Linked DNA regions of Homo sapiens: regions 1, 3 and 4 are each linked to region 2. The links come from fine-mapping of genetic effects on gene expression. A gene starts in region 2. Each other region holds a variant in brackets. All regions are shown on one strand. Distances are from middle to middle.

What was found. PIP is the estimated chance that this variant, and not a neighbour inherited with it, causes the effect. A credible set is the group of variants that fine-mapping cannot tell apart.
Region 1: its variant is the best candidate, but not a certain one, in a credible set for the expression of AOAH in activated naive CD4 T cells (Schmiedel 2018, PIP 0.90).
Region 3: its variant is the best candidate, but not a certain one, in a credible set for the expression of AOAH in whole blood (INTERVAL, PIP 0.84).
Region 4: its variant is the best candidate, but not a certain one, in a credible set for the expression of AOAH in whole blood (TOPMed, PIP 0.76).

The regions. Positions count from the first base shown.
Region 1 is chr7:36,592,200-36,600,307 of GRCh38, forward strand. AOAH (acyloxyacyl hydrolase) reads right to left here. Exons shown (of 21, transcript NM_001637.4): 12 at 2,140-2,231. AOAH-IT1 (AOAH intronic transcript 1) reads right to left here and starts at 7,921. Exons shown (of 3, transcript NR_046764.1): 1 at 7,544-7,921; 2 at 5,962-6,107; 3 at 5,635-5,683. The variant C/CA (reference allele first, on the strand shown) is at 3,974.
Region 2 is chr7:36,721,005-36,729,112 of GRCh38, forward strand. It overlaps AOAH (acyloxyacyl hydrolase), which reads right to left and starts at 3,490. Exons shown (of 21, transcript NM_001637.4): 1 at 3,018-3,490. The coding sequence starts at 3,144.
Region 3 is chr7:36,649,498-36,657,605 of GRCh38, forward strand. The region is part of intron 4 of AOAH (acyloxyacyl hydrolase); the gene reads right to left. Among named protein-coding and RNA genes, the nearest start is that of AOAH-IT1, 53 kb to the left of the region's middle. RefSeq lists an enhancer at 4,403-4,947. The variant T/C (reference allele first, on the strand shown) is at 4,472.
Region 4 is chr7:36,577,512-36,585,619 of GRCh38, forward strand. All of the region lies in intron 12 of AOAH (acyloxyacyl hydrolase), which reads right to left. Among named protein-coding and RNA genes, the nearest start is that of AOAH-IT1, 19 kb to the right of the region's middle. The variant A/G (reference allele first, on the strand shown) is at 4,501.

The DNA of each region.
Region 1 (8,108 bases), 130 kb before region 2:
GGGCATTTAAACATATATATTTTTTTATTTTCTGATGTTGAAATTGGGGGGATGACCAAGGTTCTCTCTTCTATAAACCTGCTTTGGCTGGGTTATCTCTGGATGTGTTCCAGGTAAAGACAACAGAGGCTGTAGCAGAGGGAAGATGGGACTGAGGCTAGGACTCAGAAAGTCCCAGATGTCTGTGCTTATTGGGACCCTAAGGAGGCATATGATGGGTCACTGAAATAGTGCAGGCCACACCTCTACATGGGGAGGACTTCTCTTGGTTCTTAGTCATTTCTCCATCCCATAGCTATGCTCTCACACAGAGGGACAATGGTTAGAGTGAGCCATATTCCCACACAAAGAATAAAAACAACACAAAGTTTGAGAGGCAAGAACATATCTTTGTTATGATATGACACAAGGTTCCATGAAAACAGACCCTACCACTCTTGGCTGGGCAACCTTGGTCAAGATTCTTATTCTGTCTATTTGCCCTTGGATCTCTCAACTGCAAATGCAGAGAACAATACCCACTACCTCACAAGGAGGTTAAATGAGAGAATATCTATACAACACTCAGTAAATGCTTGGCATATAGTTACTTGTTACTTCTCAAAGGTTACTTCTTACTATCCCTATTAGTAAGTATTTTAGTATTTTTACACTAATGACAAGGACTAGCCTTTTTTAAAATAACATGATTAAGTTTGAAAAGGTATAACTACACTGGAAAACACATCTCCTTGGCTTTCCCTATATTGGCAGATTATTTCTATGTAAATATGAGTACGCTTCCCTGAAGGTTAGTTCCCTTCCTAGTTTCTTCTATGCCCCTTTTATGACCCCAGTCTCCCATGTGTTACCCACCCAAAGGAAGTGACTGTTGATCACTTCCATGAACTCTTTTTCCTCGGAGCCCCGTGGCTCTGTAGGAGACCTGTCATTAGTATATCTTCCTTGCATTACCATTATTTGTTCACTTGTCTCATCTGCCTTAATTGCAATTGACTACAAAGATGGGACAAGCCCTATCTACCTTTAAATGGACACCTGTAACATCTGTGCCTGATTAGGTGGTTAAGTATTTAAGAAATATTTTTAAAGCAGATGAATAAAAATCATCAAATAAATTATTCATGGCACACAATGTTCTTTGTTCATCAGAATAATTGCTTGTTAAAATGATTAATGTCTGTCCTTTGGGGGCATTCCTGTTCCTTACAGATTTGGGTAAATCACACCCCATGCACACTTGCCCTCCTCACAGTTCTCATGGCTTATCTCATGGTGCTTTCCAGCCTTCTGCCATTTTTGCCTGAGTCAGAGAGGGGCTTCCTAGCTGGTTCTGTCCTGTCTTTAGACCTAAAAGCAAAGCTCTACCCTTTCTTCTTTTTTACACATGGAAGCCATTCATTTGCCATCTTCCTTGTGCCTATTAACTGTCATAAATGTTTAGGAGATGTTGGGAGAGAAATTGCCTCTCATATCTGTGACATTCTCCCATCCAAGTACTAACCAGGCCCTGCTTACCTTCCAGAGATCAGACAAGATCTGGTGTGTTCAGGGTGGGATGGCCATAGACTCATATCTGTGGTTTACTACCATGTTAGGGACACTTGCCAAGTTTCACCAGCATCACAGGTGTCCCTGCCAAGTGTGGGCCCTGGGAAGCAGACCCCAGGCCTTAACACCCAGGCATATGTAGTGAATTGGGTTTGTGTGTCATTCAAACTCACCAGGCCTGGTCTCTACCTACAAATCTGGGGCATTAAAGCCAGGATGATTCTAGGACTTTGAGAAGTGCCAATCAGCTTTGGCCATTATCTTTACAAATTTATTTCTGAGAACAAATAAGTAAACTTTGTTTTTCCTTGAATCAGAAAATTTCAGTGATGTGTTTAGTATTTTCCATCAGAGGTAAACTATGGAACTCCACCCCCACCCTGCCCATAGCAGGAATATGCTTTTCTTGCCAGTGCTGCTAAAATACAATTTGCATTACATCCTACTGTATGGTGGATGAACTCAAATTCATGTTCTAGAAGCAGTTCCTAATAATTCGCATTTCAACATCTTGGTAGCAACCCCCATCTCTTGTTCTTTCCTTACACAGAGGTATTGAAATGTCTGAGGGTGCACAAAGACACTTACCCAACAGTGGAGTCCAGAAATCCTGTAGCACCAGAGAGTTGGGGCCAGTCAAGCTCGTTGGTAAGGGCTGTTGGTAGATTGATGAAAGAGTTCTAAGGAAAACAATAAAGTAGCAATTATCAAAATGGTCATTTATTTTCTAAAGGTAGTAAGAAAATTCATGGCCTGAGTGTTGCTCTCTGTGTGTCTGTTTCCCACTCTCAATCTCTCGCTTTAAGGGCTTTTGGTATTCAAGGCAGATGTCTCTAACCTTCAACTTCATCAGGGAAGTCACAATGATCAGCACCACCCTTGACCTGGCTTCCGCTCAGCTCTTGTGAAACATGCAGAACATTTGGCATCTCAAACACTTGGGAGGGATGCTTCAGCAGACTAAACTTCCCATTCTTACATTTTCTGAGATTTTCTCCATTTTGCAGTTTAGGCCATCAGAAAGTCAATCATCTGAAAAGTAATTAATCTGAAAAATAATGCCTAATCCCTCAGAAAAAAATGCCTTCCCTGGGTTCAAAGCTATGGCCTTAAGGCATTAAGGTGGTGCCCTCTGACCTTCTTGGGGGTCTCAGACATTTTTGAGAATCTAATTGTGGTTCCTTTCCCCACAAAAATGCACGTGTATTTAACCTGGCCTGTGATTTCAGGAGGCTCACGGACCCCCTGCAACTCCTGCACAATTTGTCAAGAACTCCTGATACAAAGTGTTGACAAAAATAGGATTCATTTGAACCACATTTCCATGGCTTGTGCAAAATCAGCAAAGAAAAATGTGATGAGTTACAACCTCATTTTACTCCTTTTATGAGTGACTTCTGGGACTAATCTCTCCTGTGGTCTAAATTTTAGAAAAAGCTTATCTAAATTGGTATGTTTGGAATAGGGCTGCCAGATTTAGCAAATAAAAATAAAGGGTACCAGCCAGGTGCTGTGGCTTGTGCCAGTAATCCCAGCACTTTGGGAGGCTGAAGCAGGAGGACTGCTTGAGCCTAGGAGTTTGAGACCAGCCTGGGCAACATAGTTAAAATTGGTTTCTACAAAAAATAACAAATTTGCTAGGTATGATGGCATGTGCCTGTGGTCCCAGCTACATGGGAGGCTGAGACAGGAGGATTGCTTGAGCCCAGGACGTCAAGGCTGCAGTGAGCCATGATCACACCCCACTGTACTCCATCCTGGGCAACAGAGCAAGACTCTGTCTCAAAAATAAATAAATACATACATAAATAATAAAGGATGCCTAGTTAGGTTTGAATTTCAGGCAAACAAGGAATAATTTTTTGGATTAGTATGTCTCATGCATGCAATGGTTGGAACATACTTATACTTGAAAAATTTGTTATTTATCCTAAGCTCAAATTTGACTGAGTATCTTGTATTTTATCTGGGCATCTTTCTTTGGATGAAAGCTTTAAAAGCCAATATTCCCTTTTTGCCTTCGCTGACTGGAAGCCTCCATGAGTGGCTGCAAGAAGCCTTTGTATTTCTCAATATTGAAAATCCGTGCTCCCTTCGGGTAAATGTGAAAACCTTGAGTCCTCCTTTAATGCTATTTTAAAATTTAAAATAAAGTAATGTCTAAAGACAAGCATGTCAAAACAATTGTAGCTTTAGCATAATTTTCCAAATGGCACATGCCCCTGGCCTCCTGCTTTTTTCCTCATCCATGAAGATCCCTCTCCTAAGGAGACTCTGATGCTAGAGGCTGCGAGGGAAAGAAAAGCCATTAACTCCTTGAAAGTATGTCATTGTTCTTTCTTATTGCAAGGTAGTACATGGGTTTGTTTTAGAAATGCAAACATTATAGTCATTTACAATGCAGAAATGAAAGCCCCCCCAC[C/CA]CCCCGTCACCTTCCCCTAAGAGATAACTCTTGTGAGATAACCACGGTTAACAGTTTGTGTCATATATAAAACAGTTTATACGTGAAATCTACCATAAATCTTTAAACTGGGAAAAACTCAATCCTCCTATTTTCAGAGAGATAGAGAATGAGCACTCAAAATAAATAAAATGCAAATTTATATTTCTTAATTGTGGACTGTTATGGGTTGAATTATGTTTCTCGAAAAGATGTGTTGAAGTCTTAACCCCACCTCAGAATGTGACCTTGTTTGGAAATAGAGTCGTTGCAGATGTAACTAGTTAAGAAGAGGTCATACTGGAATAAGATGGGCCCCCAGTCCAGTATGACTGGTCCTTATAAGAAGAGGAGGAGGAAGAGACAGAAATGAAGACACAGGGGGAAGGCCGTGCAATGGTGGAGGCAGAGATTTGAATGATGCTTCTGCAATCCAGTTAATGGCAAAGATTGCCAGCTGTCTCCAGAAGCTGGAAGAGAGGCATGGAATAAATGTTTTCACAGACCCCCAAGAAGGAACTAACCCTGCTGACATCTTGATCTCAGACTTCCAGCCTCCAGAATTCTGGGGCAATCAATTTACGTTGTTTTCAGCCACCCAGCTTGTGGTACTTTGATATGGCAGCCAAGGAAACTAATACATGGCTTGAATCGGACAATATGCTTGTTGCTTTTATTATTCAAAGGGCTAAGACATGAACCCCTTTACTATGTTTACTTTCAAAATAATTCCTAGAACAAACAAATGTGTTCAAACGCAGCAGCAGTCATCCCATGATATCCTGTATATTTTCTGTGGGTCTCTGAGCTTCCTCTGCTCCTCCTTCTTCAATTGCCTCCTCCTTCCACACATGCCACGAAACCTCCATCCTTATTCTTATCCTAAGTGTGATTTCCAGCACGGTAGGGGCTGGAAGAGGGAGGAGTTGGTCAGGAAGTATGGCGTCCTGGGATGCACCTGTATTAATGATGATTTATCCTCTTTAAAAACCAGAAACAACCCCATAGAAAGAAAGCTCCCAGTAAATCTCAGAGGACCATGCAGTCTCAGTGACAGGTACTTTGTCACCCCTTAGCATTCAGCACCCACCACTTTCTGCTCGAGACTCCACCATTACTGTGACTCAGCTATTATCTGTTTGAGTTTCTATTTCTCCTGCCACTACAAAGCAAAACTTTTCTCTGTGTTTTATCTTATTTTTCCCTACATCTTTCTGCTTACAATGTGTGTTTACTGTAGGATGAGAATATTCATTCTGCCAGACAAGACAAGAAAAACAAATAGAATGGATGAAACTCACAAGATATGTTTAGCAGAGATAGTGAGTAAGCAAGTGGCTTGCGAGATGCAGGCAGAATTTATGAGCTGTGTTGAGTCAGTAACCTGCAAAACACGTTGAAACTTACAAGAATGATATGGTTCTTTTCCACCCCACTCCCTCACCTTTTTCTCTGTCATCCGTGCAATGGCAACTCCAGACTTGGGAAACTGGATGAGGAACTAGGTTTCTGATTCTGTCTGGGACTGCTCTCCCTTTCACAGGAAGGAGTTAGACAAGAACTACGCAGGCATAGGCATACCCTCTGTAGCCTGGCACACTAAGGGAGGGGTAAATAATTCTGAAGTGTGCCAGCAAAGTAGAGAAAGGGCTTTGCTCTAGAAATCGGATGATCTGTCTTCTGCGTCTGGCTCTACAAATACAAAGAAGAAACACAAATCAAGAAAACTCCATGATTGGATCTGACACCACTGGAAATAAGTTCCATACCCCCGGCAACCCTCATTCTCGGTCAGGGGTGGGTGATGAACTTCTTGTCTTCAGTGGCGGAAGAGGGGATGTCGAGAGGAGGGGTAGGGTAGGTGGGAAAACGGCAGGCAATCCTGTCTTGGGAAGTGGGATCTCCATGTTGCTAACACTCTCCAAGCTCAGTTCTCTGTGGATTAATCTGAAGAAATGGGACTCAGCTACCTGGGAGATTCCTGGAATCCTTGCTGATATCTCAGAAACTAGTTAGTCTTGGAATCATCCCCATTAGGATTTCAGCTGGAGTGGACAGTGGCTGGTGCTGAATCACAACTGGGGCCAGGGTGAGTTTGTATTCCTCAGCGGGAGCCCTGGAAGGCCCAGGCAGACCAGGTCACTCGATGAACTTCAAAATATAGCAAACCTGTGCTTTCCTGGTTGAATGTTTTAGACTTCACTTCTGGTGTTAAGCCAAGGCTTTACTGTTATTAGTGTGCAAACTTGGGGAAGATGTATTTCAGTTTCAGTATCTCCAATGACTATAGAAATATCACCTTATTTACTTCAGCAAAACTGTGAGGAAGACCAAAAGACACAGTCAGAAGCAGGTTGACAAGTCAGAGCCCTACTATGTGAAGCATCATGTTTAGGGCAGACCACCTAGTGTCCCTTTCCAAGTGAACTGTCCCAGGTTTAAGAGGAGTGACATTTATTTGCCAGATAATAGAAAAGGTTTGAGCACACTAATAGAAGCCTTGGCATATTTTTTTTCCTTAGTAAATTTGGTAGATAAAAATGAAAAGTAGTGGCTATTAATAGCAAATGTTTTATAGACCCTAGCAAAAAGAGAATGTTTAAGTCCTATCACATTAAACACTAAAAGCCTTATTCACGCAACATTATATCCAAGATACTTCAGGCATTTGAGGCAGGAGGAATGCAAATTAAGATTTTCCTCATCAACTCCTGCTTATTCCTCTTGAGCATTTATGTTCTTAGGAAACTCGTTTTAAATGTACCTTAAATGTACATATGTGAAAAAGACTGAATATTTACCAAGAAAAATTTTCCAAACTTAAAGAGCGTGAGCAACCTAGTGAGTGTTAGATCACTACCGCATTGCTTCAAAATTTCTTCTGACCTTTATCAATGATAGATATTTATTTTTACAGCATAGTTGGCACATGTTTACTATTTTGTGTAATAGTTTCATTTAACGTTTCCCTGTGTGTGGGTATGTGTGTGTGTATTTCCATGCATCGAGAAAGCCCACTGGTTCCCATTTTTGATGGATATTTAGTAAATACAATAATTCGAATTTGGTAATATTTTAAGCCCTAATGTCAGCAAGCAATTGATGTTCTTAAAGCTTTGTTGTGTGGGAGAAAGAGAGTAATGACACCAATCCCTCATTCATCTGATTCTGCCAGTCTTCCAGCAAAGCAGGGAGTATCCTCAGTGCCTTTCCTTCACTGTTTACATTTGGGCTCTCTCCATCCTGCACTGCTGTGGACAATCTACACAGTATATTCCCTTTTCTATTACATGTACCTGCATTAGACCTGAATGGATTATTTTCAAACAGTACAAAGTCACTTGGAGGAATCTAAGTAACTGCTGTTGGAAAAAGATAAAAAATGTCATCACCAGTTAAATAAGCATTGTTTTATCCATTCCCCAGAATTAAAGTCTCAAAGCAGATGGGGGATTGTTACTTTACCAAAAAAAGAAAATAGCTCTTGGGTTGGTATTTTTAATAACGCTGGAGAGTTTCAAGGCCCGGGAATCAAAGACAAGGGCTACCTGCTTAGCGTTGGAACCATGGGTCTCCCAGTTCCGCTAGTTGGCTCCTCCTCCGTCTGTCCTGCAGTGGCGCTTGCAGAAGGTAAGCAGGGTTCCTCCTGCTTTCTGCCTCTCAGTCCCACCGTGCCACCACACTGCCTCCCATCTGCTCAGGTCCCCACCGCTCCCATTACCTTAGTGCCTTTCTTGTGGGAGCACCACATTATGCAACTTTCAGAGCCTTCCTTGGCTTTCACACACACTTTCCTGCCAGACTCCCATTTCTGTAGCCTCTGCTGCATGAATCTGTCCTACAAATAAATGTCTAACCTACTCATGATGCTTGGATGTGCTGTTTCCCAGATAACTTGCATTAAGCGAGAGTGGGGAAGAGAACTAATGCGGGGTTCCCCTTATGTGCCAGGCACTGAGACAGGAAAAACTTGCACAAATTGTTCAATTCAATTACACAACTCTGTGAGGCAGCCTTCCTCCCTCCTCTCCTCCCTCTCTCCCTTCTACAAACACTTTAGAGCAACTACCATGTATCAGATTGGATATTCCCTCTAATAAAGAACAAGTATTCACAC
Region 2 (8,108 bases):
CAGCTGCGAGAGAGCGGACCTCACTGCTTCCTGAGATGCTTCCCACATACAACCCTTCCAGCAGGTACACCCCAGGATCCCGTATCAGGAGACACTCGCTCCCCAGCTTCTGGAGCCATTGGTCTGAAGGATTATGCCAGCATCAGAGTCCCTTGCCAGAACTGTCTCCACCAACGGGAGATGTCTCAAAATTACAGCCCTCCCCTGTGGTCAGGTCACATCGAGGGACTGTTTGATGTGGGAATTCCAAGACCTGCACCTACTTCAGGACAACTCTGAAGAGCTATTTTAGTCCCAGAGCTCTCAGTGGGACTTCTTTTATGGCTGCAGCACAGCCCGGCTTCTCTCTGCCAACCCCACTGCCTTCCTCTCTTGCTCGTCTTTTTGCCAAGAGCACTTCTCAATAAACTCCCCTGCACACACATTTCTAATCCTGTCTCCCCCAAAAGCCAACTTCAATCAGTGAAGCACCAAGTTGGACCACCTTCAGCCCCTGTCTCAGCACATAGGCAGTGCTCAGTAAGTGTTCATCACAAGACTGGACTCCTCTTGCACCCACCTTTCTTGCTATTATGACAACAGGTGAATAAGTCACCCAGGCAGAGTTAACCAGAAGAAGTTGGGAGTTGCTGGGAAAATGGATGCTAAATCATCCTCAAACCTAATCAGCAACAGAGTCTCCAAGCCCTTGGGGCCATGAGAATTTGTATGGGCAACCAAAGTGAACCTCTGTGAATGATAGAGATGACCACACATTTCTTGACCCTCTCCATCAAAATGAAGGGTCTCTGCCCCCTCCCTTTGAGTCTGGGTGGAGGAACTTGTGAATGCTTTGAGCAATGGAAGATGGCAAGTAATGCTGTGCCTGTTTCCAGACCCAAAACTTGAAAGATTGGCAGCTTCTAATTCCTGTCTTTTGGAATTCTCTCTGGGATTCCTAAGCTGCCAGGTAAGAAAGCCTACTACCCAAGATAGCCATGTGTGGGCACTCTGATGGCACTCCCAGATGAGCCAACCCTCTAGCCATTCCCTCACCCCTAAGGTGCCAAATATGTGAGTGAAGCTGTTTTTGTCAGTCCCAGATCCATCAATCCACCATCCGAATACCACCTCCTAACCTCGGTCACTCCTACATGGAGAAGAAGAATCACCAGCCAGTGTTCGAACAAATTTTTCACCCATAAAATCATAATACAACAAATGGTTATTATTGTAATTTTTGATGCAGCAATAATAGAAAAACCAGAGCAACCCCATCCTGAAATCTCCCCAACACCTCCTTCTTACCCTCTATGACCTCACTGGGAACAGGGCAGAGAAAGGAATGTGTACCTCCTGTCCATTTTACTGAAGTGAAGGTCCAAGGATCTCAGCCCTGACAACTTGCCCAAACTCAAACATTTAGTTTGCAATGAGCCCAGAAGTAAAACTGATTTCATCTGAGCTTTTCTCAAGTGTATTTCCATTTGATGGGCAGTAGGGTTTTGTTTTGAGAAAAATGAAAAGGTGGCAAATAGTTATTTAAGGAAACCAAATACTGGGGGAGGATGATCTCCCAGGCATGGTTCAAAGGACCACACACCTCTGCCTTCAGGTCTCTGGAAAATAGTCTTGGGGAATCTGGGTCTTAATTAAAACAAGACTTTGGAGGCTGGGCGCGGTGGCTCATGCCTGTAATCCCAGCACTTTGGGAGCCAAGGGGGGCGGATCACGAGGTCAGGAGTTCGAGACCAGTGTGGCCAACATAGGGAAACCCCATCTCTACTAAAAATACAAAAAATTAGCTGGGTGTGGTGGTGTGCATCTGTAATCCCAGCTACTCCGAAGGCTGAGGCAGGAGAATTGTGTGAACCAGGGAGGCAGAGGTTGCAGTGAGCTGAGACTGCACCATTGTACTCCAGCCCAGGTGACAGTGCGATAATCCATCTCAGAAAAAAAAAAAAAAAAAAAAAAAAAAGGACTTTGGAAGTAGAGATGCATCTCCTAACATGTACAATGACCTGAGGCCATGATTTTGAGGAAGTAGGACAAATTCAGATATATTTCCATATTGTCTCCAGAAACAATTCCTAAGTGTCAGAATCTGTGTCCAGATTTTCCATTTGCAGCATGTAGCCATCAGACTTATCCTAGAGTTATTTTCCTGGCTTCTCAAGCTAGGATTGTATTTTGAGGTCTGCTCATTGAACAATTACTTACTACTCAGAGTTCTGAGTCTATGTGGCTCCATGGACTGTACCATCTAAATGCCACCACTATTATGAGAATTCCCATGTTATGAGAGCTACAATGTGAATATCAAAGATCTTACCTTACTTCCTGCTCTCATCCAAAAAAAACAAACAAAAAAAACCTCTTGGAAATAAAACACTTCATTAACAGATGAGCCAAGAAGCCATATCAACGCTCAGCGTCTCCAGGTGATCGCCAAATCTGGATTCTCTGAGAGACGGAAGGAAGCTAAGATGGTTGAGTCCTTACTGTGTGCACATGCCACAGATTTACATGCATGGTCACAATTTCCATGGTATCCCTATGAGATGGGTCTCACTCACTTCAGTTCACCAATAAGGACACAGAAGCATGGAGAGGGTTAAGTACATTGCTCCAGGTTTCCACAGCCAGTAGGAAATGGGAGAGAAGGGTAGGAGGAGGGCAGTGATTCAAACTCAGATGTGTTTATATGAGGTCAAAGCCCATGAAAAGCAGTAAAAATTTCAGACTAAAATAGCCTGAAATAATAGTTACCTATACAAGAAGAAAAAATTCCAATCGCCAATGAGGTGGAAGAGTTTTATGCCCAATTTAAACTAGTATGCTTTTTATTCACATAGATGTATGTAGTGTCAATGTCTACTCTTAGACTCCACATTTCTCTGTGTCAGTGAGGTTACTGGTGCCTTACCTGGAATCTTACAATTCTTGATTTAATAAAATATGTGATTTATTACGCAAGCAAAGTACTGGATCCCATTGTTATGTCTACATAGAAAATACAAAAATATTTATTTGCATACCTACACAGGTGTGCCCATTCGAGAGGCTGGGCCTGGACTGGTCATCGTTGGCTGGAGAGGCCGAGGACTGAAGAGACAGGAGCAAGAATAGAGGCGCCACCGTAAGGATTTTCCAGGGGGACTGCATCTCCGAGCTATGCACCCCAAGTGATCACCCGGCTTTGGAAGCTCCCAACTGAGGGATGCTGGAGCTGAGGCTGCAGAATCAATTGATCTCTCTCTCCTTCTCTTCCTCACTCTCTTTGACACACACACCCCACCCTCTCACATACACACTTTTCAATAAGTGTGAAGTGAATAAAAGCACACATAAACACTCACAGACCCACAGCTTGCTCTTGTTGGACCCTGAGAGAGCCACACACAAAGAGCTGGAGGGAGTCTGTGGTGTGCGGTTCTGCTGAGGTAAAGACTGCAGGATAAAGAAAACCCAAGTTGCACAGTGGCACAACTTCCGTGCTCCCTGGCTCAGTGAAGTTAGTGTGCATAAACCCCGTGAGCCTCGAGGCTTGCCGGAACTGATCTGTTGGGTTGGTTAGGAGGCCCTTCCCCTTTCATTCTTGCAAAACAAAACAAAACGATACTAAAGCCAAAACTGAGAAGAAAAAAGAAAAAAAAAACTAATCCACAAGCACACAACCCTTTAACAATTTGATCAGCAGCACCCACATATTGTAGAAATTCTAATTGGTTACATTCAGAACTTACTTAGTCTTGTTTTCAACAGCTTTATATGGTAAGGTTGTGATCCTTATTTTGTTGTAAAAGGATATTCTGGTCAAATAATATCTTTCCTCTGGAGAAATTGGGTTATTCCTTGAAGGGTCAAGGCCTTTTATTTGGTGTGCAGAAAATAAACAGTACAGAAAATAATGGGCAGTTAGCATGGTGGGATTTTAGACCTAATGAGAAAAAACATGGGTTAGAATTAATCAATTCACAGTTGCTAGGCTGTGCACAATGCATCTTTTTTTTCTCCAGAATTTCGAAGTGCATTTTGTGGATGATTTGTTAAGAGACTGATTTTCTGCTCTGAAGAATAGAACTGAACACTGTCTTTCTGAGGGAAAAAAAAAATCGGAACCAGATCATAGATAAAAGACATATAATCTAAATGTTTCTCTCTAAAATAAGATAAAACAAAATCATATGCCATTCTCAGTCAAGATAAGAGGACAGGGCCAAAGTACCACAGTCTAGGTAAGTGTAGGAGGTCATGAGATTCTGTTTCTCTCTGCTTAGGCTCTGAGGGAGCTTATTACAAATTTTGAAATATTATAGAAGCTATCTAAATTGTTAGCAATTAAAAAAAATAGCATTTGGAGTAGCAGGCAAAGTTTTAGAGTAGCATCCTTTCCAGGATGTAGGAAATACCAGTTTTTATGGTTGGAAGATTTCTTGTGCAGTCATTAGTCTTACAAGCACCGATGGGGCTACAATTCCCAAACCTGCTGCAGAGATAGCACAAGTCAGAGTGTTTCCCTAATTACACTTCCAGCCCAATACTGAGGATATCGTTAGGCGTCCATGGGCCTGTGACTTCCTCTGACTCTAAGGTGCTGCTGCTTCAGTTCTTCACTCTGTGACTAAGGGGAGCTCTGGGGTCACTAGGACCACCACAGGGGTGAGGCCTAGAGAAGTTCCAGAGACTTCCAAGGGAGGCTAAATAAAGGACTGATTGATTAGGAACTCAGATTGTGAAGACAGAAAGGCTCATGCTTACGTCTCATGTCTACTGTTTATTCTGAGTAATATATTAGACCAGTGATGTAACTTTCCCCCCTTCAGTGTCTTGTTTTTGTTGTTGTTGTTGTTGTTTGTTTGTTTTTTGAGACAGGGCCTTGCTTTTTCATCCAGGCTGGAGTGCAGTGGTGTGATCACAGCTCACTGCAGTGTTGACCTCCTGGGTTCAAGTGATCTTCCCACCTCAGCCTCCCAAGTAGCTCATTTCTATTGGGATAATGGTAATATCCGCTCCAATGCGCTGCTGGAAGCACTCGAATACATGATGTATCCAAACAACAAAGCAGCATGGCTGGCAAGAAGTAAGTGCTTAGTGCATCTGTCTATGACTCTAGCAGGAGTGTGATGAAACCTGCACCCCAGACCAGCTTCAAGAGAATTCCAAGACGCCCATGGTAGTTGTAGGCCATCATGTCATACATGGGAAATGGTGAGGACAGGAAAAGGGAGGATTTATTGAATACCTTCCAGCTGTGCTACAGCACTCCAGGAGTGTGTGGTCTAGTTTGTCTAATCCATAAATGGGTGAGGACTCTCCTGAGGGCTTCTGGAAGAGCATTTGACACAGGCTTTGGGCCTCTTGAGGCTCTCCTGGTCTCAATGTATAGCTGCGAGCAGGTCTGGAAACTCTTAGAGTGAGAGGGATTTCTTGGTATGCCGGAAATGCAAGTTTTGTGCCCTTCATCGCATGTATGTGGGCCAGGCAGTGCCATTCACAACCATCCCAGGGATGGTCGGCTCTGAAACTCTCTAGTGTGCTCAGGCTTCGGGGCTGGTCACAGTGGGAGTCGCTGACTTAGCTGTGCAGTATTGAGCAAGCCCCTTCCTGTTTCCAGAGGTGACAGTCCTCAGCTAGAAAAGGGAGGTGAGACTATCTACTTCGTAGGAATATATCATGGTAAAACCTGACACATAGGTTTTCAGTAATGGAAGGATTTTTCATGCTTGGAGGGTGAGTTCTTACTGGGCATGATCAAAGGAAGAATGCAGAAATCAGAAAGTGATTTCGCCAGCAGAAGCTGGAACAAAGTGCACGTGTGCACAGACCACTGAACAAAACATCCCTCTCCGTCACCAGGATGGAGTGGACCCTCCCATTTGCACAGTTGTCCTTCACACTGGCTGGTATCATTGCCCCTGACAGGGCTGCCTTTGCTCATCAAGTACTGAGTGCAAATGACTTGGGATCTTTGCACAGCTTGCCAAAAGGCCCTGGACCTACCTGTGGTTTAGAACAACTAGTCAGGCCCTGGAGAATGTTCCTGCAGGACCCCACTGTCAGATGTTCCAATTTTGAATCATCTCGAAATCTGCTCTTGAAAATGAGATTTCTTCCCTGAAGCACTTTGTTACTGATTTCACTCAAACAGCTCTGATTCAAACCACTGCTTTCCCCTGTGCCATGGAAGGCTAAGGCTTTGTGATCCCCAAGTGTTGCACCTGTGGTCTGCTTGTTCAGTATGAATATGCTTCCTGAATATTTTTTGACCACATTGGCCTCAACCACCTCATCCACAGCAAGTTCCTTAATCAGAAAAAAAAAAAAAAAAAAAAGAGGTGGGTGATGGGAGATCCTGTAAAAGCTGGCACTGTCACCAACACGTGTCTCGTCTTAGACTTTCTCCTCTCTCTAAGGCCCAGGTCCATGCTGCCCTGTTACTCCTGGCTGCCCAGGACTGTGTACAGCAGTCCTCAGTTCCCATCTACCAAAACCAGGCCCTCTGCTGCTCCCCTCCTCCTCAGTCAGAGCTTATTAACGCTAGCCTCATTCTATTCTGTTCTGCTGTCTGCTAAGGACAGGGTAAATTAACCCATGCTGAGGATGCATGGGGGCTCATTAAAAGAGCTCTGGGCTAGGATGGGGGGCCTGTGTCATGGGCTCCCCTCCTAGTAGCTGTGTGCCCTGGGTAAGCTGCTCCACCTTTCAGAATACCAGTTTATTTTACTATAGAATAGGGCATATAATGTCAATATTTAAGAAAATTGTGAGAATTAGAGAGACAACATGAATTTAAAAACATAATATTAACTGTTAGATGAATGTGAAGCTGACAATGAATTCACATTATTCTTCTCAAGTAGCATTGAAATTTTGGGGGAAGTTTTTTAAATCAAGATTTTAAAAATTGCTACATAATAACTGTACATATTTCTGGTGTACATGTGACATTTCAATACGTGCATGCAATGTGTAATGATCAAATTAGGGTAATTAGGATATCCGTCATCTCAAATATGTATCATTTCTTTGTCTTGGAAACATTTAAAATTCTCTTTTCCAGCTATTTTGAAATATACAATGAATTGTTGTTAACCAAAGTCACCCTACTGTGCTATTCAACACCAGGACTTATTCCATCTAACTGTATTTCTGTAGCCATTAATCAATCTCTCTTTATTCACCCTTTCCCACCCTTCCAAGTCTCTGGTATCTATCGTTCTATTCTCTACCTCCTTGAGATCACCTTCTTTAGTTTCCACAAGTGAGTGAGAACATGCAGTATTTGTCTTGCTGTGCCTGGCTTATTTCACTTAACATAATAACCTCCAGTTTCATCCATGTCGATGCAAATGACAGGATTTCATTCTTCTTAATGGCCAGATGGTATTCCATTGTGTACATGTACCACATTTTCTTTATCCATTTATCTGTTGATGGACACTTAAGTTGATTTCATACCTTGACTGCTGTGGCTAGTGCTGCAATAAACATGGGTTTATACTACAAAGTATGTCAGTATACCTTTCCAACATACTGATTTTCTTTTGAATACATAACCAGCAGTGGGATTGATAGATTATATATTAGATCTATTTTTAGTTGTTTGAGGAAGCTCCATACTGTTTTCTATAGTGGGCTGTACCATTTATAATCCCACCAACAGTGTGCTAGTAGTGCCCTTTCAAAGCATCCTTACCAGCATCAGTTATTTTTGTCTTTTTGATGATAGCCATTTTAATTGGGGTGAGATGATATTTCAGGGTGACTTTGATTTGCATTTCCCTCATGATTCATGATGCTGAGCATTTTTAAATATACCTGTTGGCCATTTGAATGTCTTCTTTTGAGAAATATCTATTCAGATCCTTTGCCCATTTTCTAATCAGGTTTTTTGCTGTTGTTTGAGCTCCTTGTATATTCTGGCTATTAATTCCTTGTCAGGTAGGTAGTTTACAAATATTTTCTCCCATTCTGCAGATTGTCTCTTCACTCTGTTGATTGTTTCCTTTGCTATGCAAAAAGTTTTTAGCTTGATGTAGTCTCATTTGTCTATTTTTGCTTTTATTGCCTATGCTTTTGAGTTCTTACCCAAAGAGTCTTTGCCCAAACCAATGTCCTGAAGCATT
Region 3 (8,108 bases), 72 kb before region 2:
AATCAGGTAGGAAAGAGAGCTTACTAAAATGCTAACTAGGCAAAAACAGGAGGTAAAGAAATAGCCAATCATCTATCGCCTGAGAGCACAGCAGGAGGGATAATGATCGGGATGTAAACCCAGGCATTCTAGCCGGCAATGGATACCCTCTTTGGGTCCCCTCCCATTGTTTGGGAGCTCTGTTTTCACTCTATTAAATCTTGCAATTGCACTCTCTTCTGGTCTGTGTTTGTTACGACTTGAGCTGAGCTTTCACTTGCTGTCCACCACTGCTGTTTGCCGCCGTGGCAGACCTACCGCTAACTTCCATCTCTTCAGATCTGGCAGGGTGTCCGCTGTGCTCCTGATCCAGTGAGGCGCCCATTGCCGCTCTCCATTGGGCTAAAGACTCACCATTGTTCCTGCATGGCTAAATGCCTGGATTCATCCTAATCGAGCTGAACACTAGTCACTGGGTTCCACGGTTCTCTTCTGTGACCCATGGTTTCTAATAGAGCTATAACACTCACTGCATGGCCCAAGATTCCATTCCTTGGAATCCGTGAGGCCAAGAACCCCAGGTCAGAGAACATGAGGCTTGCCACCATCTTGGAAGTGGCTTCTGCCATCTTGGAAGCGGCCCACCACCGTCTTGGAAGCGGCCCACCACCGTCTTGGAAGTGGCCCACCACCGTCTTGGGAGCTCTGGGAGCAAGGACCCCTTGGTAACAAGAACACTGTTTTGAGAAAATCCGTAGAAAAAGAATGAATTCCAAATAGTTTGGGTCTAAAACTTCTAGTTCTCTCTGTCTTTCTAAGAGGCCTTATTCCTAGGGGGCTGGGGACTGGAAACCCAATAGCTGAGGTTAAGTTGATAAATCAATCAGAAAAGGGGTAGAAATCAAGGAATGGTTGGGGAAAAGGATGCAGTTAGAGGGCAAGTGGGGATGCATGGTTTTGGATGTGTGGGAGGTGAGAAGCAAGAGAAGGGACAGTGCTTTCAGACTTGTCAATGACAGCTTTCAGGCTTAGGCCAGCCTCCAGCACAACAGTTCTCACCCTTCAGTGCTCGTCAAAAGCGTTATGCAAATGCAGATGCTCAAACCCTACCCAGGAATACCAGAGCAGGCGCCCTGGGATGAACCCTATGTTTATTTCTGAAAACTGCTTCACATTCTCAAAGAAGCCGAATGCTTTGAACTCTCATATAGTCCACTGAGACCAGATACATCCTCACAAGGGAGAAGGTAAGGTATGTTCAGGACTGCCGTTCTCATCCTATTTTTTACTAAACAAATCTTACAGAGCACCTACTATGTGCCAGGTACTATGCCAGTCCAGGAATAAGATGGTGAGCAAGAAAGACACGGTCCTTGTGTTCAGACGGTATCAAAGAAATAAAGTGGTGTGAGAGAGCAGGAAAGGGGACCTTCTTCAGAGAGGTTGGTCAGGGAGGGTCTTCCTGGAGAGGGGGTACTTAAACCAGCAGGGGAACAAGGCGCTGGCCATGCAGGGAACTGGGAGTTCTAGGGAAAGGGCCCAGCACAAGGGGCTGACGCAGGCGAGGTGGAGTGTGCTGGGTGAACTCTACTCTACCCTGAAGGAGTCACCTCCACTCCTGTTCCCTCCAGGACCAGCTCAGCCCTCGTCTGCTGGGGTTTCTGTTCCTCCTTGCACCCTGTGTGACAGCACTTCTCTCTTCCTCACTGTTTGTCTATAGCCTCCTGCTAGAATATCCATTTACATTGCTATCGCATGCCATATGTGCTGGAATACTGTTCTACTTAATTTATTCTACATAAATATTTGTTGGCTGATAAAAAGAAAAACAATTATTCTGTAGAAAGTATGGGACTTCAGGAAAGTCTCTCAGTTCTCTAGGTATCAGTAGACTTATTTATAAAATGACAGAATCATATTTGTCCTACAGACTTGGGATAGTTAAAAAAAGATAACTTATTAGGGTACCCGGCTGTGGGGATGGTACATGGTAAGTGTTCAAGAAATGTTTGTTGAGGTATGACTAAGTAAGCGAACATGTCAGTGGTTTCATTGTTACTGAGAAAGTTGGGATATTGTGCAAGATTCTTGAAAATTAAGCTGTTTATGATATTTTATGAAAACTAAAACTAAAGCTGCCTTTAATTCCCTCTGGCTCTGAGAAGTGACTATTCTGAATGTGCTCCAGAATCTATGCTAAACACAGGCAGTGCTGATGTGAAGAGCTGGAGGTCTAAAGTCCAGGGCCCTGGGTTGAGTTCAGATTCCACTCACTACTTATGAGCTTTGAGTAAAGGCTTTAAGCCTCAACTGCAAAATATGTTTGATAATTTTACCTATAAAATAGAGTTTGACCTGTGATACTGGGTTAAAATTAGAGATATCAGTATGAGCTCACATCCACATACACACACACAGAGACACACATACAGACACAGTAACAATTGTAGGTATTTGTGTATACATGGGTTGTATACACATATACTTTACTTAGCACTCCACAAAGAAGACCAGGACCTAAGAAGGCCAATAAGCAATGACATCCCAGTAGCAATGGGCATACCTAGCACCCAGATCTTGGTTTCCAAATACCATTTTCCAGTAAAAGGAACCAGGTCTCCTTCGGGACATGCTGATTCAAGGACAGGGGCAGAAGAATATAAGATAACAAGATGAGCCTGGATCATCTGGTAGTACCAGAACATAAAGTAGTATGGAACAAAAAAAAAATAGGACAGAGGCATGTCAAAAGGACACAGGAGCCACCCTAAGCTTCCAATGGTAGCAAAACTGGAAAACTGGAAAAATTTGTGCAATAAAATAGTGTATATTTGAATTATAACTCAAAGTATAAAATACGTATACATGAATCTGTGCTAATATAAATAAATGATTGGCTAATTCAATAAATTAGGGAGGAGAGAGATGTTTTTTACATAGAAGAATTTCAAAAGATATGTGTAGATATTCCATGTTCTGGGAGCAGGGGCTTGGTCCTCCCTGGCCTCACTGAGTGCAGGCTGGACTTAAAGACTCACTTCTAAAGAACTGAGTAAAGGAAAAGGGGGAAAATAGTGACTTTGCAGTTGGGAAACCTGGCAAATGACCCTTTCACCGAGTGATGAAGGGTGATCTCACCAGCAATGCCATGTGGCATCATTTAACCCTGATAGGATGTGATGAAAAGGGTGCTTCACCTCTGTGGTGTTCTTTCCAAAAACCCCTAACACTGTCGAACCAAGATGAAGACATCAAACAAATCCCAATTCGAGGAACATTTTACCGACGTACTTAACCTGTATCCTTGAAAACTGCCAAGGTCATGAAAAACAAGGAAAGATGAAGACTCTGTCACAGACCAGAGGACACTAAAGAGACATGAAAAAGAAATGCAATGCGTGTCCTCGACTAGATCCTGGAACAGAAGAGGACATTAGAGGAGAAGCATGTGTAATCCAAATAAAGTCTGGACTTGATTTGCTACTAAGGTATATACAGTAGTAATACTGACTTCTTTAGTTTTGACTAAGTAATAGTAATGTGTTCACATTGTGGGGAATTAAACTTGGGTGAACAGTATACTCTCTTGCAGTATCCTCACAACTTTTTATAAATCTGAAATTATTACCAAAAAACGTTTATTTGAAATAACAGAGTTTGGGGGAGACTAGACAATAACACATGTGACAGTGTGCTGTGAGCTCATAGGGCTAAAAACAGCATTATGAGCATCAGGTTCTTTGGATTGTGCAGAATGAAATTTAGTGATTACAGAATCTCAGGAAGTGTCCAATTTCCTGTCTATCTGTGATTCTTTTTCTAAACACTACCACCTGAGACAGTCTACTAAAAGAGATGCCAGGTATTTTATTTGACACCTAGTGTTTAAAAAATAAAAGTGAATTCCTGAGGTCAGCTTGTTTATTGCTTAGGCGAAACATAATTTGTCATGCGTCACTTTCTCATATAAAGAGTGAAAATTTACTTCTTGCCAAACCCATTTATGTCACTTTCCTGGTAGTTTGGATTCCAGGGAAATATGATTCCCTGTGCATACACACCCTCCCCCACACTCAGCATCAGAGAGCTTTTGGTTCTTGTAGAAATGCAACTCACTGTGGGAAAAGCTGTTTCAAAGTCTGGGTTGCTTTCCTAAGGCAGCAGGTCTCCCTGCCACCCAGCAGTTCAGGAGGCCCCAGGGAAATAAGGAGAACCTCTCTCCACACAGGGCTTACATTCTGAATATGATTCTCTTTTAATGTAGATCAAAGTGGCTGAAGTAAGTCTTGAGTGTGCCTTGGAGATGTTGGTAAATGCAGCATGTTCCTCCAGCACTGCTGTGGTTAGGAAAGGAGTCAGTTCAAAGCTACGAGGTCTGCCTGGAGATCTCAAGTTCAGGGACCCAAACGGGAGTGGCTTAAAGCTAAGGAGGCTCCAGGATGCTTCTGGCTCAAGCAGGGGCTCATGCAATGTAACATTCTGATCCAAAAAA[T/C]AGAGCTTTAAAGAACCACTGGATACACACGAATAAGTTGCATTCGGTTTTCAATTTGTGAGCTGTGGTGTTAGAATCATGGTTTTGGACATGGTGGGAGGGTTGGGGAGGGCTCAAGGGAGAGCCAGTCACGTGCATGCATCCCTGTGCGTGTGTGCGTACACACACACACACACAGCAGCAGCAATCAATGCGCTGTTTCATGTGCAAATGAGAGGAGCGGTAAAAATAAACTCCCAAGATACGTAACACAAAACCACCTGGGTGGTCTTTGCAGTGAGGCCTGCAGCTATTTTTCCTTCCCTTTCCTTCCTGTCCCTCTTCTCTTCCTCCTTTTCTCCTCTCTCCTTTTTCTTCTTCTTCTTGTACCAGTGGGACATCGTAGATTTTTCTTGCTTTAATTAGTTATGGATGAAGTTTGTCCTTTTTGAGCACACAGTAGATAGTGGTAGGGAGACACGTCCACAGGACCGGCAAGAAGTGGGCCTGGAATTTCAGGTGGGCTGTAGATGATGAATAGGGGTTCACTGTGAGCCCCAAATGCAGTTCCACCTTTAACTTTTGGCCTCACTGAAGCCAGATCTCTGTTGCTCTGCTCTGCTTGCTTCTGCGCTATGAGCTCCCTGCTACAGAGGGGCCCATCCATCCTCTCCATCCCTGCAGCATGTATATCACAGGGGAGACTGCTTGCGTCACATTATTTATATTGTACTAGAGTCTGAAATGTGTGAAAAGCCAGACATAGAGCGTGCAGAGTCCTGCTTATGAGGAATTAGCTGGCCCAGGAGCAGTGGTTCCATTCAATGTGACAACACCTACGGAGTCTCAGTGAGGCAGAGAGCACGGTGAATGAGAATTTGGACTTTTAAGAAAAACAGACCCTAGATAAATCCTCTTGTATTCCTCACTAGCTGTATAGCCTGGGAAAATCCCTTAACTTCTCCAAGTCTCAAAATTCCTCAACTGTAAAATAAATATGGACCTAACAGCACAGTTAAATGAGATCACGCACGTTAAGTGCAGCGGCTGGCAGGCCATCAATAAATACCAACTTCTGCTATTTTCATTTTTATCCATATACCAAGTAAGTATGTGCCTGGCATGGTGGAGAGAACAAAGACAGACAGGCAAGGTACAGGCCTGCCCACCCCCATGTGCTTGCATCTTAGTGAGGAAATCTACGAAACTAGAAACTAGTATCTTGATGTCTCTCTGCCACACCTTCGTCATCTATAAAGGGTGGACAACAATACCTATTCCATAAGATTAAATGCATGAATACACATAAAGCATTTAGAACAATGTTAGCACATTATAAGTGCTCAAACAGTTATTTTACAATGATTATTCAAAGGAGAGTTAACATTTTGTTGGGATAGTTAGGAATTACTTTACAGAGAAGGTGACCATTGACATGAGCTTGAGGGATGGCATGGAGTTGATAAAGGTGATCTGGGTAGAGGGAATGATGAAGATCCAAGGTGTAGGGTGGGAGGGTTGGGGATGGCTCAAGGCAGAGCCAGTCACTTGCTGCTCTCTGCAGCACAGGATTCACAAACCTAAGAGGGAAAGGCAAGTCTGGAAAGGCTTTTGGAAGGTCCTGAAAAGCTAAGTGAAAATTTGTACTTAGTTGTGTAGGCAACGTGGAGATCCCAAACTATGTTCAGGATCATAAGTATGCCCTGGGAAAATCAGTGAGGCCTTCACATGAGGAAAGTCAGAATTTCCATCAGGGATGCAAATGAGAAGCTAGTGGCACTTTACCCGTTCATTGCGTCAATACACATTTCCTTGGTATGTGTGAGGCACCGTCCTAGACACTGGGTATAGAGTGGTGAACAAGACAGAATTTGCCTTCCTGGAGTTCAGAGGATAGTGGTAGAGACAGGCAGGCAGTCACACAGGAATATATCTTGTAAAGTGGCAAGTTCAAGAAAGGAATATACAGGAGCTATGATAAGAGGGCTATCTAATAGGGCCCGCCTCCCTGAAGAAGTGACATGTAAGCTGAGCCATGAACGATGGGGAGGAATAATCCACCAAGTGGAAGGACAGAGTGAGAAATTGCTTTCCAGGCAAAGGGTTGGGCTGGGGTGGAAGGTCATATTTTTCCTACAGCAAGGCATCTGTGGCATCAATGTGGAAAAAAATGTATTAGAAAGAAGGAAAGAGCAGATTTGGTTGGACTCACTGGGACAGTAGTGCAGGAGCTACATCAAAAGATGATTGGGGGAATTCTACATGAAATGATGCTGTTCACCCAACACGGGATGAAACTCACAGGTGGAAGAAGCCAGACACAAAGGAGCATATACCGCGCGAGGCCTTTGATACGACATTCAAGGATAGAGTTTCCTAAAAATGAACTAGCCGGTGGCGATAGACTTCAGAATAGTGGCTACTCTGGGGACTATTGACTAGGAGAGTCATGAGAATTCCTTCTGGAGGGCTGAACATTATCTACGTCTGCATTTGTGTCTTCACCCGCCCTTAGTAGGTAATGTTAGGTCAGCTGAGAGAAAGGACGAGAGAGAGAGACCCAAGTTTAGGCAAGCCTTTATTTAACTTGCCGGCTGCTCTACTACAGACAGAGGAGGCAGTCTTGAGCTTACAAAATGAGGGGTTTATATGGGGGAGAGAGACCCTGGGGTTGTATGTTGGTTAACTCTGCCACATATCACCTTGTGACGTTTATGTACCGAAGGATGTAAGTAAAGTTTGTTTACGTTTTTTATGACTTTTTTTTGTGCGACCTTCCCCTGTGCCATCTGGATGGTTTGTAATTGGGGTTTGCTTTATTGCTGCAAGGCCTGATAGGTAAAGTCTGCTGACTTCACCACGGCACCTAGATAAGGGCTTCGAAATGTAAAAAGGCTTGGGGGAAGGGGAGGGGTGGCACAAAGAGGTTTGGTGGGGGGTGTTGGCAGTACCAAGAAGCTTTTTTGGGGCAGTTTGTCCCTAACAGGTAGGTAATTCCACCTGAGCATTCATACGTGCTACGTAGGAGTGATTTGCAGAATGATAAAAAGGTCTGCTATATACCACTGAAAACTAGATGCTCAAAATGTAATGTTAAGGGAACAAAGTAGGGTATAAAATTGTATATGCATTATCATAACTCTCAAATAAATTCTCAATACAATATAATTTATTTGAAAAGTTAAAAGGAAACACACATTTCGACATCAGTTGTTTCTGGTGGTAGGATTTCAGCTGACTGTTGTAAGAAGACACCCCAGGGGAGTTTCTGAAACATTGACACCACGTTAGAGCTCAACCAATCTCTGAGTAGAACAACCGGGGTGTGAACCCAGTTCTGTTCTTTCCTCGGGAAGTGACTTTCAGGAAGTCACATAACTTCTCTAACCCTCAGTTTCCTCCACTGTAAAAAGGAGTCGAAATGACACCTCCAACCTAGGCCTGCTTGGGAACAAAACAAGATCAAGTGTGAGCCTCTACACCAGCACTGGGCCCAAAGTGAGTGCCCAGTCAATGTCAGTTACTACTATTCAGGGGAAGCTCAGAGGCAGAGGAGGGTGAAGCTGTCCATGTGTATACCCATTGTCCCTCTTTTCTGGGTCATCTGCAGAGATAGAGGCTGGAGAGGGGGACCCGAGGCAGAGGGTGAAGGCCTAGA
Region 4 (8,108 bases), 140 kb before region 2:
ATATATGTTGAATCTCTGTTCCTTGAATCTAATACTAATAAACACAGAGCTTACGGAAAAATTTGACACCAGTATCAGGCTATAATTATATATATTTTAACTCATTTTCTTGGCTCCTTTTTGTCTCATCTTTGATTTTTCATTTTCTTTCGCTTAATATAGATGTAAGTAGTTTAATTAATGCAACAAAATTTAGTTTAAATGTAATTAAATGTTATGTTCTCTAAACTTTCATAGGCTTCCTAAAATCTTTGAAATAAGACCAGATGTAAACTAAAAAATAATAACTTAGCTCAAAATATTTGAGTAATCTTCAAATGTATTGTATCTTCTTTTCATTATAATAAGTTCACATCTCACAACCTTACATACAATCACCAATTATTAAGTGTTATATGAAAGCTTACTAATTGTATTACAGTGCTTGGCAACTGTCTCAGTGCTTCAGAAAGGTAAGCATATATTATGTTTGGGCATTCAGGATGCATAGAAAATAGTATCCCTTTTTTGAAGTCTGAGAAAACCAATGATAGTGTTTTTTAATACAAGACCAAGATGCCTGAGCAATATTTTAAGTGTGAGATTTTTGCTTTGTAGTAGAATTTTGAGATGAATAATGTATTTATTTTTTAAAATCAAAGCTACCCATGCACATAGTTTAAAAAGTAATTTACTTAATAGATGCTTATTGAGCACCTGCTACATTCCAAGTATTATTCTAGGCACTGAGTTATATTGGAAAATTAAAATACATGATCCCTGCTTCTGTGTTGTTGATATTTCAACAGGAAAAGGCCAATAAAAGAACTAAACATTATAAAAAAGCAAATGATAGAGTATGCTAGAAAGTTCTAAATTCTATGAAGAAAGGAAATGAGAATTAGAGTAGCCAAAGGAAGTCTAATTGAGAAGCTAAAATCAACAAAGACTTGAGGTGGTGAGTCTCACAGAACCAAATAACTTACCTATGTGTGTATATAAGACTTGTGATGATAAATAGCAACCCCACACCTCCCTCCACTCTCCATTTTTCCATTTCCATAGGCAACTAATTCCAGCCTTAATTGACTAGGTCTTTTGATGTTTTTCTCCTCATCTCTAAGTAACATACTTTTAAGGCTACTTCTTGATTGTTAGTCTTTGACATTATCTGTTCACTTCCTACTCTAGAAGAGGATTTAGCTATTGACAACTAATCAATGATTGCTTTCTAATTTCTTTCTAACTTTTTTATTTCTGTAGAGTTAATAACTGCCTTTTGTTTCTTTCCTTAATTTTCTAAGTATTTATCATTGTATTAGTCTATTCTCATATTGCTATAAAGGAATACCTGAGACTGGGTAATTTATAAGAAAAGGGGTTTAATTGGCTTATGGTTCTGCAGGGTGTAAAGGAAGCATAGCAGCATCTGTTTCTGGGGAGGTCTCAGGAAGCTTCTAATCATGGCAGAAGGCAAAAGGGGAACAGGCATGTCACATGGAAAAAGCAGAGCAGGAGAACAAGCAAATGTGCTACACACATTTAAATGACAAGATTTCATGAGAACTCACTCCCTATCCTGAGGACAGTACCAACAGGGATGGTGCTTAACCATGTGTGAGAAATCCGCCTCCATGTTTCAATCACCTCAAATTTTTCATAAGCCTAAAACTGCTTAAAAAAAAAATGGCCCTATGTAGCTGAACTGAACTCAGCCTTGCCAGCTGTCCCTTCCCAGGCACATCATGTGAGTGAAGCCATCTTGGATTCTCCAGCCCAGCCCAGCCCAGCCCAGCCATTAGGTGATGTCACTGAGTAACCATAATTTCATATAGAGAGGAATAATTGGCCAGCCAAGCTCTGCTTGAATTCCTGAACCCCGCCCCCCCCAAATTGTGAGATATAATAAAACGACTATTGTTTTAAGCCATGAAAGTTTGGGGCAGTTTGTTATACAACAATAACATAAATCTGTATTAGGTATTAGTCAGGGTTCTCTAGAGGGACAGAACTAATGGAATGAATATATATATATATGGGGGGGTTTTTAGTATTAACTCACACTCTCACAAGGTCCCATAATAGGCTGTAGGCAGGCTGAGGAGCAAGGAGAACCAGTTCAAGTTCCAAAACTGAAGAACTTGGAGTCTGATATTCAAGGGCAGGAAGCATCCAGCATGGGAGAAAGATGTAGCCTGGGAGGCCAGGCCAGTCTCTCTTTGCACATTTTTTCTGCCTGGTTATATTCTAGCCATGCTGGCAGCTGATTAGATTGTGCCCACCCAGATTAAGGTTGGGTCTGCCTTTCCCAGACCACTGACTCAAATGTTAATCTCCTTTGGCAACACCCTCACAGACACACCCAGGATCGATACCTTGTATACTTCAATCCAATCAAGTTGACACTCAGTATTAACCATCACAGTTATGATATTTTTCCCTCACAAGTCTGAAGGAATTGATTGATTTTGGCTTTTAGCCTCCCCAGCATTGTTAAGTATGAAGCAACTCTGTGTCTTGATCTTTTGAAAGCCTATGGTAGCACCTCATTCCAAGTGTTCTGAAATGTTATGATGGCAGTCTTGGTGTGTGTCTGATTTTACTCATAGTGTTAGACCTTTGATAAACCCTTTCAACTTGGAAATTCATGATGTTCAGTTTTGAGAGATGTCCTTAAATTATTTCACTGATGATTTCTTCCTTTCTCTTTTTTCCCTACAACTATTGGGTCATCTGAACCGGTCTTGTAATTTTCCCTGTTTCTCTGTCCTATTTTCATGTCATGGACCTTTTTCTCCATTTTCTGGATAATATCCTCAACTTTATTTTTTAATCTTTCTATGAATGTCGTCTGCTATTACCAGAATAATTTCCAAATGACCTTATTGGTTCTCTGAATATCTTTTTAATTTTAATGTTCTTGTTTTATGAATGTAACATCTTCTTTTATCCTTTTTTGAAGCACTTGTCTGCTATAGAATTCTTTTATCTTTTTGAAGATATTAATTTCAGTTATTTTAATATGTAGGCTATTAAACTTTCTAAAAAGTTTTATCCCCCTTAGTACATAGTCTGTGTTTCTCTAAGTTGCTTTTTTTCCCCTTTGTTTCTGTATTTTCTTTCATGTTTGAGGTTTCCTTCAGATGTGTGATGATCCTGGGTTATAGGCTTATTTTTAAATGTTGAAACTAGTTGCCAGCTAAAAAGCTAATTGATTTTGATTGGAAGCTGGGCCCCTGGCTGTGCTTGTTGACTACAGCCCTCACTGCAAGATGAGCTGTCTGGGCCTTTCTTGGGGAACCCTGCTGTCAGCATCTGTGGGACTCTCCTCTTGGGCTGTTCAGATTCCCCAGGGAAGGATCTTCTAGTCTGCAGCCAGGAGAGTACAGGCTGGGTTGGCAACACTCTGGGGCATGTAGGGAAGGGTCCTCAACATTTAGCATTCATGTGTTTCCGTAGGATACTCCTCTCCTCATTTATGTTTGGTGTCTTCCAGTCCAGAGGCCCTTGACTTTAGTGTTTCCAGAGAATAAAGCTCTAGTCTTATTCCAGAGTATGGGAGGGGCAGTTGACCACCTGTGGAGAGTTGGAAGGGGTCTGAGGAGCTAACTGCTCTTCAGCAATCTTCCAACCAATACTTCTGGTTTAGCCTCACCTGCATTTCTACAGCTCCCACATGTAACCAATCCCCAAGTCTTCTGGGGCTTCTGCAGTGTGAACTGGGTTGCTTCTTGGCATTCCCTCCAACCAGCTTAGGATGCAGCTCTCCTGAATCTACTAAGTCAGTTACCATTCATCTGTCTGATTTCTAGCTTCCAACGTTTTGTGGCTGTTGGCTCTTCTTGTTCTCTTCGTCCTCTTGGACAAATTCATTTACTGTCGTTAGAGTAGGGCTTTTCAAGGGAGAGATGTAAGTGCTTGTGTTCAATCTGCTATCTTACTCAAAAGCCTGAAATGGATACCTTATACACTGCGTCACTTATGCCCTCTGCCTTGAGTATTTTATTATATTTTGGAAAAACAGATGGGAAATGGACACTGGATCTGAGTTTGATACTAAAATAATTTTATGGTCAATAAAGAGGGGTTATTTTTCTTTGGGAAAGTAATTCTTACCTATTTAGTCACAAATGTATTTTTGATCATTCTGAGAATGGAATTTATATACCAAAATATTGTTTTGCTCATGTCCTGCTCATGAAGAGTAAATAGTGTAGGTATTAATATTATAGATACAGTTAGTTGCACCTTTCATTATAAGAATATAGAAATCTTTACCAATAGGAGATAGTTCTAATAACATTTCTGACTAGAAATAGCATCTAGAATTTTGGGATGAAAGCCTTGTACCAAGCACTAGAAAGTATTTCACATAGTAAAAGATACTGCTTTCTTTCATCCCCATCCCGAATCTATAATCTCTCTTATATATTTTAGGAACTGCATTTCTCAAGGAGTGCTCAGAAATCCTGAGTATATAGTGGGATCAATATAATATTTTGATATGCCTGCAAATTGAGA[A/G]GATAGCTTAATAGAAAATTATATATATGCAGGGTCTTGAGCTTGTAGTCATAGGACAAGCTGAGGCTACTAGGATGCTATGCATAATGAGGCTAAACTATCATGATGATTCTGGCCTCAAATCCTCTTCCTCTTGCTCTCCTTTCTCCACAAAAATCCAGTGTTCCAGTGTGATCTTTTATTTTTCTCTTTCTGCTCTGTTGTATATATCAAAATCCGGTCCAATGTGCTAGGAGGAGGTGACTGCTTTTGGGCTTGTAAGTTGAGGGATGCACAAGACGGGTACTTAAAAGTTCTTTTCTCCACACTTTGCCCAATGCCTACAGAACTGAATCCTCAACTCCAGGCATAGGCATGGAAGTGAGTCACGTTAACTTTCCAGTTTCACCAGCTCCTTCTACTGGAGGGCCTGGCAGTACAGGCATTTCATGTGAAAACACACTGATTGGGTTTTGATTTCTAGCACCGTAATTCAAAATGAGTAAAACTCAAACAGAATGGCTGTTACTCTTCCCAACATTGGCTCAGGGAACACAAAAAAATCACTTTTTCTGAGAGCTTCCTAATGCCTTCCCCCACTGCATTTCGGTAGAACAAAACAGAGTAATATCAAGAATGGGCCTCAAGAGTAATGTAGACAAATTAAACAGGTTGATTTAAAATGAAATAAAAGATGGCCTCCCATGTTGACTCAAGGCAGAACCTATTTGGAGAGAGGCAAAAATGGAGTTCTTCCAAAGGCTTTGTAGCCTGCCAGAGATCTCTGAGGTAAACCAGATGTGATATGATTCAAGCAAGAGTGATGTAGCATATTCTGATGAAATTTCTTAGTCAGTGTCTTTTTTTTTTTTGAGACAGAGTCTCACTCTGTCACCCAGGCTGGAGTGCAGTGGCATGATCTCGGCTCACTGCAACCTCCACCTCCTGGGTTCAAGCAATTCTCCTGTCCCAGCCTCCTGAGTAGCTGGGATTATAAGCGCATGCCACCATGCCCAGCTAATTTTTGTAATTTTAGTAGAGACAGGGTTTCACCATGTTGGTCAGGCTGGTTTTGAACTCCTGACCTCAGGTGATCCTCTTGTTAGGCAATTTCTGACTCTGTCCAGAGGCACAGCTTGCTTGGGTATAAATTATGAGTCTCCATTAAGTTGAATCTTAGGGAATAAGTTACAAAAAACAGGCTCCAGCAGTAGGGTTGGTGAGAAATACCTGGGGATATTTGATGTGAAGAGTTAGGGAGGGGAGTAAATTAGGATAAACTTGGGTAACTTAGAGACTAGACAGGCTTTAAGGCTTTATCCAGGGACCTTTTCTGCTAGGAAAATTTAAGAAAAGGGTGGATAACTTTCTTTCTAATGTGGATGGAGGTCAGGCCAGCATAGGGCCAGGGAGATAGATTAAAGACCTTTTAAGATTCCTTTCAGTCCTTTGATATTAGCCACATCCCAGAGTTCTGTGTAACCCCTAACTCACTACATCATAGAACAACTAAGATGTAGCCTCAGAGAGTGATAAACATACAGAATATGACTCACCGTGGACTCAGAGAGACTGGCAATAAGCTAATTATGCAGAGGTGAGGATGGCTACAGAGGAGGTCCTAGGAGTTCACATACAAAAAGATTAGCAGGACAGCATGATAAATTTTGAATTTGGACCAGAAAAATAGTACAGGGAAAAAGACTTCATAGGCATTGTGTTCAATAATTCATGAGCTGCTGGGCTCAGACAAGGCTTCCTACCTGTTAGGTTAACCTCTCACTAAGATTTCCTCCCCTCCTGTTCTCTGAGCTTGAAGCAGGTGTAGCTCTCTCCATCCTGGCCTTTCCCAGCCCCAGATTTGATTCTAGGCCACTGTATTAGGGTGAACATTAAACTGTGATAAAGTGGAGACATTTAAGGCTGTGGAGGCTTATACATCTGAAAAGATTACTTGTGACATAGCAGATGGTTTTAATGACCTAAACGGCATTTCTCAAAGGATGTTCTGTGAAACACCAGTTTCTTTGAATTTTTCTCATAAAACACACACACAAATTCTACATAGTTCTGTGGTCAAATAAGTTTAGGAAATGTTTTATATATTTTTGAATGTTTTATATTTTTTGAGGATATACAATGCTTTTTCGCATAGTGAAGGCTATAATAAGCCTTATACCAAATAAGCTTGTTTCCCTTTATTTAAATTAACATTTCCAAAACTTATTTGACTTAACACGTCTTTTAAGAAATGTGTGTTAGTACCCTTTAACATTTTGTGGAACTCATATTTCGCAGAAGAGTTTATGAAGAATATTGATGAATTATCTCTGTGATCTGTATTTAAGCATTGAGGTGGCCTAAAATCTCAAGTTCAGTTGGTTACAACGATTCTACTAGAGAAATCTGTAGAGTGTTCATTTACTTTGATTAATCTGGGTTGCAAAATTACATCATTCTGGGCAAAAATTCACATCAAGGTTTGACTTATCATTAGCCAAATTCACTTCTTAGCAAATCTCTTTATTTCATTTTTTCCACTTGGCTACTGAATTGATGTTTCTTTTAAATTCATTTTCTCCTATTTGTTGATTACATATGGCTAATATTTTAATGTTAATTGTGTGATTTAATATTTTAATTAATTTTGCTAATTTCTTGCAGAATACTTATTATAGGACACACTTAGAATTCCAAGGGTTTAACTTACGCTGATTTATTTTTACATATTTTTACATATCACATCATGCAGTTGCTAATTCAGCTATACTCCTTTGCCTATTTCCCCCAAAATGTTAATCCCAACAAATCTTATTTGATTTAGATAATCTGACAAAATGCACATGAAGGAGGTTTGCAGATTGTAAAGCACTCTACATGGGCAAACTGATATCCTTATGAGCTGGTTCAGCAATTCTTTTATTGAGCACCTGCCATGTGTCATGTACTGTGCCAGGTAAGAGGGCTACAAAATGAAGTCACCTGATTCCCATACTCAGGATGCTCAGAGTCTGGGCATGGGAAGGTGGAGCATGAGACAAGTAGTAAACAGGTATTATAAGTGAGGTGACATTGGTATTGAAGGACATGATAGGATCTCAGAAAATAATCATCCAGTTAGATGGGGGGTCAGTATGAAGGGGCTGTCTGGAGGGGTATAAAAAAGAAATGTAGCTGAAGACAGAGAGGCTGGGGGATGATCCCTGAGGGGTAGGTGCTGCAGCATGGGCAGAGGGCGACTAGATAGGACAAAGACAACGGGCGATGCCTGTGAAAAGATGCTCAAACTCACTAGTAGTCAGGAGGTTACAAGTGAGAACAACAATACAATGTTGTTGTTATAGTGGAAAAAATTAAGAAGATGAACAATATCCAGTATTGGCAAGGGTGTGGGAAAACAAATATTCTCATATACTAATTGTGGGAATATAAATTGGTATAGCCCATTTGGAGGCCTTATTAAAATTAAAAATGTAAACATTTGGGTCCAATAATTTTTTCTTAAGAAATCCTCACACATATTCCAAAGAGTCAGTACAAAATGCTCATTGCAGCATTACGAAGAATAATGATACTCTGGATATAAGTTGGATGTCCACCTGTAGGAGAAAAAAATAACTATGCTATGA